Homo sapiens: one gene and its partner. The protein of the gene in region 2 interacts with the protein of the main gene of each other region in a pairwise test. Each region holds a gene or a part of one and is shown on either strand. Other genes may lie near its edges. The genes, in order: ROBO2 and RDH11.

What was found.
Region 1: the proteins of RDH11 (region 2) and ROBO2 interact in a two-hybrid assay, tested with the Homo sapiens proteins (one large-scale study listed by BioGRID and IntAct).

The regions. Positions count from the first base shown.
Region 1 is NC_000003.12:77,046,441-77,050,266, reverse strand, and holds part of ROBO2 (roundabout homolog 2 isoform 23 precursor), read right to left. Parts: intron 1-3,826. UniProt on the Homo sapiens protein: Receptor for SLIT2, and probably SLIT1, which are thought to act as molecular guidance cue in cellular migration, including axonal navigation at the ventral midline of the neural tube and projection of axons to different regions during neuronal development.
Region 2 is NC_000014.9:67,678,572-67,682,397, forward strand, and holds part of RDH11 (retinol dehydrogenase 11), read right to left. Parts: intron 1-3,826. UniProt on the Homo sapiens protein: Retinol dehydrogenase with a clear preference for NADP. Displays high activity towards 9-cis, 11-cis and all-trans-retinol, and to a lesser extent on 13-cis-retinol.

The DNA of each region.
Region 1 (3,826 bases), on a different chromosome or scaffold from region 2:
TCTGATTTAATGGAACAATAATAAGCTTGGTTTTCAATAACTGTACTGTTATCTGGCAACGTATTAAAATTTACTTTATAATAGAGATATAAAATACAAGAGTGCCTGTTGCTAGATTCATTCTAAATTTCCCCTAATTTACTCTAACCCTGAAATCTATATTTTATAATAATCGGATATATCTAAATAAGTTTAATCATATTCTAGCATTTGCTAGTATTTGGAAATATACGTATTATAAAACTTCTAAGTACGACTCTAACCTTGATTTATAAAAACTTATAAACTTTCCTTTATAATGAATAACTCTTAACTCAAGTTTTTTGGAAAGTCAAAATTCTCCCTTTTTGAATCACACTTATGAACATTTTAATTGGTTATAAGTGCTGCAGAGGTTTGGTCCAAATCCCTTAAATTCCAGTCTGGTTTCAACTGGGTGTTCCTTGCTTAAACTTGAAAAGCCTTTCAGTGGGATAGTTGAGTTATATTCCATGTTCTCCAGCTCATTTCCAAAAAGCTTGGAACCAAAGTCTAGGGAAAGAGATCCCACATCAATCCTTACAACAGAAATTAAAAAGTGGCTGTTAACCCCCTCTCCTGAGCTAAAATTTCCATGTTGCATATGGTTCTAGTTATAGTGGCCAGAAACTAAGCACATTGACCTAAGACTATTGTCTCCTTAGTATTAAATTTTTAAAATTCCATTTATTGATAAGGAAAGCCTAAGTACCACTGGTCATTAATGAATGAGAGTGGATGTGAATCATAAGACTAGTTAATTTTGGCTGTCATGCATATCCATAGCCATATCATTGAACCCACACCAAAACACAGATATGCTACATGCATATTAGACAATAGACTGTTATTGTTTTTAAAGATGGATGTTTATGGTTTTGGATAATTCTTTTCAAGCCTAAATTTGTGTGAGTGTGTGTGTGGAGACGGGGCCTCTGTCACCCAGGCAAAAGTGCAGTGGTGTAATCATGGCTCGCTGCAGCCTCAACCTCCTGGGCTCAAGGAATCCTCTCATCTCAGCCTCCCAAGTATCTGAGACCACAAGTGGACACCACCATGCCCAGCTAACTTTTTTTCTTTTTTGTAGAGACAGGGTTTCACTATGTTGCCCAGGCTGGTCTCAAACACCTAGGCTCAAGCGATCCTTCAGCTTCAGCCTCCCAAATTGTTAGGATTGCAGGGGTGAGCCACTGCGCCGAGCCCAGGCTAAATTTTCTTCTTTAAAAATTCTCAGATATAACAATAAATGTTGGAACATTAAACAGAAGTACTTGGGATAATAAAACCTAAGGTTCATGGAGACCTTGGAAATTACACAGTCAAATGAAACCATTTTTGGTAAGGTTCTAAGGCAATTAGAACAATTAACAATCCACTAGGGAAGCTAACAGTGCAGTCCAGAGATCTGGTCACCAAAGGTATGTCACTTCCACAATAGTAATGATATTGTTTTATTCAGGCTATCCTTTCTGATATGCATAACTACTCATTGTGCAAATGTAACTAATGGATAATTATAAAAAGTTATTAGATTCAATGTCTTATACTAAATGAAGGGAAGCTAAGGGGGCTATCTAGAAAACGAATTAGTGAGTGGATACCAAATGTTAATTTTTACTTAGGTCTTCGGTTCTCAAAGTGTTTATTTAGTTTGTCTTACACAAGATTTATCTCCACAGTACGTTATATCAAAGCACCAGGTAAAAATTATCCAGGATGAAATGTAAATCAGCCAACATGAACCAAAATGCAGGCTTACACAAGCATGGTCTACTTGCTAACAAATTGCCATTTGTGTGATTCCTCTCTTGTTTACTATCTTCATTCGTCGCACCTTTCACTTGGGAATCACATGTGTTTTGTAATCAGCTTATGATGCAATGGAAACACACATGTCATAGCACAACTGTCACAGCTGTGTAGGCGAGGCCACCGATAAGTTCCCTTAAGAGGCAACAAAAATTCTTAATCAGTCACCTGAAGACTCACAGCTGAAAAATCTTATTAAAATTGTCCTAACATGCACCCCAATTGTAGTCCATAATTAGTCTGATAGCAAAGTCCTCTTCTAGTTATTTTCCTTGTTCATACTAGGCAGGGAATAATAATCTAATAAAAATACTACTAATTATAACAATAAGTTATGCTTGAGTGGCATTTATAAAGTACACTGTTCATGGCATCATATATATCTTTTTTTTTGAGACGGAGTCTCACTCTGTCGCCGAGGCTGGAGTGCAGTGGCGCGATCTCGGCTCACTGCCAGTTCCACCTCCCAGGTTCAAGCCATTCTCCTGCCTCAGCCTCCCAAGTAGCTGGGACTACAGGCGCCCGCCACCACACCCGGCTAATTATTTTTTTGTATTTTTAGTAGAGACAGGGTTTCGCCGTATTAGCCAGGATAGTCTCGACCTCCTGACCTCGTGATCCACCTGCCTCAGCCTCCCAAAGTGCTGGGATTACAGGCGTGAGCCACCGCGCCCAGCCCATATATATCTTTATATACATCTTTATTTTATATATATATTTATTTATTTATATATATCATTATATATATTTTTTTGAGACGGAGTTTTGCCCGTTGCCTAGGCTGGAGTATAATGGCACAATTTTGGCACTGCAACCTCCACCTCCTGGGTTCAAATGATTCTCCTGCCTCAGCCTCCTGAGTAGCTGGGATTACAGGCACCTGCCACCATGCTCAGCCAATTTTTGTATTTTTTTTAAATAGAGAGGGGGTTTCACCATGTTGGCCAGGCTGGTCTTGAACTCCTGACCTCAGGTGATCCACACACCTCACCCTCCCAAAGTGCTGGGATTACAGGCGTGAGCCACCATGCCCTGCCTATATATCGTTATATTTTTAAAACTATTTTATTTCTCATTATAACTGTATGAGATATACATTATTACCATGCCCATTTTACAGGTAAGGACACTGAGGCATAAAAAGGTTAAATTACTTGTTCATACTCATTCAGTAGTGATTGCTCAGTAGTCTTTCAATAACCATCTTATCCTTCTTCCTTACAGGCAAACTATGTTGCAATCAATCTAGACTTCTTGCCATTTCCTTAGCACCCCTTTGTCATCTTCATGCCATTTTTCTGGTTACTTCTTTTCCTGGAATTCAATTTCCAATCTTTTTGCCCACCAAAATCCCACTCTTCCTCTAAGGTCCAGGTTAAGAGACCCATTTGGTGTTGACCCTTCCCAGATTGTACCAGCTGGAAATCACCTATTCCTTCTCTGAGTTCTCAAGACTATACTGTGTACACCTTCAAACTTCTTACTTATCAGACACTACTTTTTTTATTCTAGTGACTTGAACATTTGGTACCTTCCCTACCAAGTCATGACTTCCTTGAATGTGGGAATATTTTCACAGGTCAGCATGTTCTTCACAGAGCCAAGCAAGTTATGTTGTCAATATGCATGTGTTGAATCAAAGGAATAACCTAAACATATTCAAGCTCATTTTCTCATGGACTCTTCAGAAAATAGCTGGTCATTTTCAGTAACAAGAGCCTGGAATTCTTGTTAAGGAGTTCCAGGGCTAAGAATCCAGAAACAGTCTCTCATAGGCAGAAGCCTGGTACAGAGATGAAGCATCCCTGGAGTCTAGTTTCTGCTCTACCACTAAGTAGCAATGGGATCTGTGACAAGGCACATAAAATCTCTAAGCTTCAGTTCTCCATGTGCCCAACCAATAAGAGAGTTGTGCAATATAGCTGCAAATATTCATAATGGCTCCGAGATGCTATCATTCTATGATTTATATTTACTATTGCTGAGATCTCTGCTAAAA
Region 2 (3,826 bases):
CTCCAGTCCTTAGCCAGAGAAAATGTAATTACCATTTTAGATCTCCTCGCTAGACCACCTCTCATCAGAATGCTTTGTTTGATATATAATGCATACATTTGGTCTTTATATTCCCCTATTTATATAATTTAATATTAGTGCCTGCCTGACACCCATGTATATCCATCTTCTTCAAGTAAGTCCATAAGGCCCATTCTACAGAGCCTTGGACAATGTCATATAGCTGAGATCCTGCTATTCACATTGGTCAGAGATGCCTGGAGTAGTAAAAAAAAAAAAGAAATGCTTATTTCTGGACTCCTTGAAGTTATACTGTTAGTAAACTCATATGAGAAGTAAAGCCAGCTTCGAAAACAACAAAAGGAAAAGGCGACACAGAAAAGAAATGGTAAAACCAAGGTACGAGGTGTCTTGGTCCATTTTGTGGTACTGTAACAGAATACGACAAACTGGGTAACTATAATGAGCATACAGAAACTGGCTTATGATTATGGAAGCTGAGAAGTCCAAGATCAAGGGGCTGGCATCTGATGAAGGCCTTCTTGCTGTGTAATAACAAGATGGAAGGCATGACATGGGCAAGAGAGGGAAGGGGACACAAGTCATCCTTTAATAAGGAACCACTCCCAAGATAATGAACCCGTTCCAGAGATAATGGCATTAAACCATTCATGAGGGCTGCCCTTGTGACCTAATTTACCTCTTAAAGGCCCTGCCTCTCTATACTGTTGTATTGAGGCTTAAGTTTCCAACATATGAACCTTGAGGGACACATTCAAATCATAGCAAAGTGTTTCATATACCCTCTCTTCATTGCTGTAATTAATTCCAAGTTTTTTTTTTTTTTTTGGAGGCGGAGTCTCACTCTGTCGCCCAGGCTGGAGTGCAGTGATGCGATCTCAGCTCACTGCAACCTCCGCCTCCCAGGTTTGAGCAATTCTCCTGCCTCAGCCTCCAGAGTAGCTGGGATTATAGGCGCCTGCCACCATGACTGGCTAATTTTTGTATTTTTAGTAGAGACAGGGTTTTGCCATGTTGGCCAGGCTGGTCTCGAACTCCTGACCTCAAGTGATCCACCTGCCTCGGCCTCCCAAAGTGCTGGGATTACAGGCATGAGCCACTGCACCCAGCCTGTAATTCCAAGTTTTATAATTTTATAATTCCGATGCAGAAAATTTTCTTAAGGACAATTCTGACTCATTTTTGTATTCTCTGGATCTGGTATACATCTGGTAAGCATTCAGTCAAAGTTTTAAAAAAAATGATTGAATGTATTACAATCTTTAGTCATGTGAGGAAACAATTTTTAAAAGTATACTATTTCAAGAAAATTGCTTCCTCAGTATCTAAGCAAATTCTGAAGGTGAAAGAGTTGACAAGTCTGAATTAACTATATATGCAAACTCTTAACACTATGTCAAGTAAGACAGTGGGATTCAAAGTGTGCACCACAAACCAGCAGCAGGAGCATCAACTGGGAGCTTGTTAGAAATTCTCCAGCCCTACTCCAGACATACTGAATGAGAATCTCTAGGGTTGTGGTCCAGGAATCTATTTTCAACTAGTTTTCCAGATGACTCTTGAACACACTAAAGTTTGAGAAATACCATTTCAAAATATCGTCACGTTTACAAAACAAGTCTTATCAGTACTTCTGTTTAAGAAGACTCACCAGTATGACCAGTACAACTTGCCATTTCCTAGTGAAAAGATCATCAGTGAGAACCACAAGGCTCTGTATCTCTCTGGAAATGACTCAGCCTTTGTAAGCCTCTGCATCCTCCACTGCACTGTGCCTTATACTCTTCATAAGGTTACAGTTAAGAGCAAAGAACACAGTTGACATGAAGGTTCCTTGTAGGCTATAAAAACTAATCAAATACTACAGCAAGAGCTTTCTGGTTGTTTTTTTTAGACAGGGTCTCACTGTTGCCCAGGCTGGAGTGCAGTGGTGTGATCGCAGCTCACTACAACCTCCCCAGGCTCAGGTGATCCTCCTATCTCAGCCTCCCAAGTAGCCAGGACCACAGGGACACGCCACCACGCCTGGCTAATTTTTGCATTTTTTATAGAGATGGGGTCTCATTATGTTGCCTAGGCTGGTCTTGAACTCCTGGGCTCAAGTAGTTTGCCCACCTCAGCCTCCCAAAGTGCAGGGATTACAGGCGTGAGCCGCCGCGCCCAGCCAAGTAAGAGCTAGTTAAGTGTGCCTATGGCATCAGCATGGTCACAGTATTGACATTTCCAGGGGGATTTTGCTAAGAATTAGTATAGGTAAAAGATAAACTAATTTCAAAACTTACTACAATGCTATAGTAATCAAGATAGTGTGATACTGGCATAAGGACAGACATACAAATGAACGGAACAGAAAAGTGAAACATAAACCCTTATATTTATGGTCAATTGATTTTTGACAAGCTTACTGTTATACTCCAATTGTGTTCCCCCAAAATTAATATGTTGAATCCCTAACCCCCAGTGTGACTGTATTTAGAGAGAGGGCCTTTAAGGAGGTAACTAAGGTTAAATGAGGTCATCAGGGCGGGGCCCTAATCCAACAGGGCCTTATAAAAAGAGGAAGAGACACCAGGAGTGTGTGTACATAGAGGAAAGGCCATGCGAGGGCTCAGAGAGAAGGCATCCATTTGGAAGTCAGGAAGGCAGGCCTCACCAGAGACCAACCAGGCCAGCACCTTGATCTTGGACTTTCAGTCTCCAGAAGTGTGAGAAAATAAATTTATATTGTTTAAGCCACCCAGTCTGTGGGATTCTGCTATGGCAGCCTTAACAGACTAATACAGATACCAAGACAATTCAATGGGTAGAAAACTGTCTTTTCAACAAATGGTGCTAAGGCACTGGATATCCACATGCAAAAGAATGAAGGTTGACCCCTACCTCATATCATATACAAAAATTAGTTCAAGGCCGGGTGTGGTGGCTCATGCCTATAATCCCAGCACTTTGGGAGGCCGAGGAGGGGGATCACTTGAAGTCAGGAGTTGGAGACCAGCCTGACCTACGTGGCAAAACCCCATCTCTACTAAAAATACAAAAATTAGCCAGGCATGGTGGTGTGCACCTGTAGTCCCAGCTACTCGGGAGGCTGAGACAGGAGAATTGCTTGAACCCAGGAGGCGGAGGTTGCAGTGAGCAGCCTGGGTCACAGAGCAAGATTCCGTCTCAAAAAAATAATAATTATAAAATAAAATAAAAATAGTTCAAAACAGATCACAGACCTATGTAATGCTACAACTATAAGACTATTAGAAGAAAACATAGGGGTTGCTATAGTTTGAATGTATCCCTTAAAAAATCACATGTTGGAAACTTAGTCCCTCTGCCTTCATGAACAGATTAATTAATAAAAGCTTTGCCCTCATACCTGGATTAATGTCACTATCATGGGAGTGGGTTTGTTCTTGCTTGCCCTCTCACCATGTGATGCCCTCTGCCATATTATGACACAGCAAGAAGGCCCTAACCAAATGCCAGGCACCATGTTCTTAGACTTCTCAGCCTCCGGAACCATGAGCTAAGTAAATTTCTTTAGAAATTACCCAGTCTGTGGTATTCTGTTTAGTAACAGAAAACTGTCTTTACTAAAGACAGTAGTAAATCTTTGTGACCTTGGGTAAGGCAATGATTTCTTAGATATGACTGCACAAGTGACAAAAAATAGATAAACTGGACTTCATCAAAATTTAAGTTTTACATTTCAAAAGATACCATTAAGAAAGTTAAAAGACAACCCACAGAATGAGAGAATATTTGCAAATTATATATCTGACAAGGAACTCGCATCTAGACTATTAAGAACTCT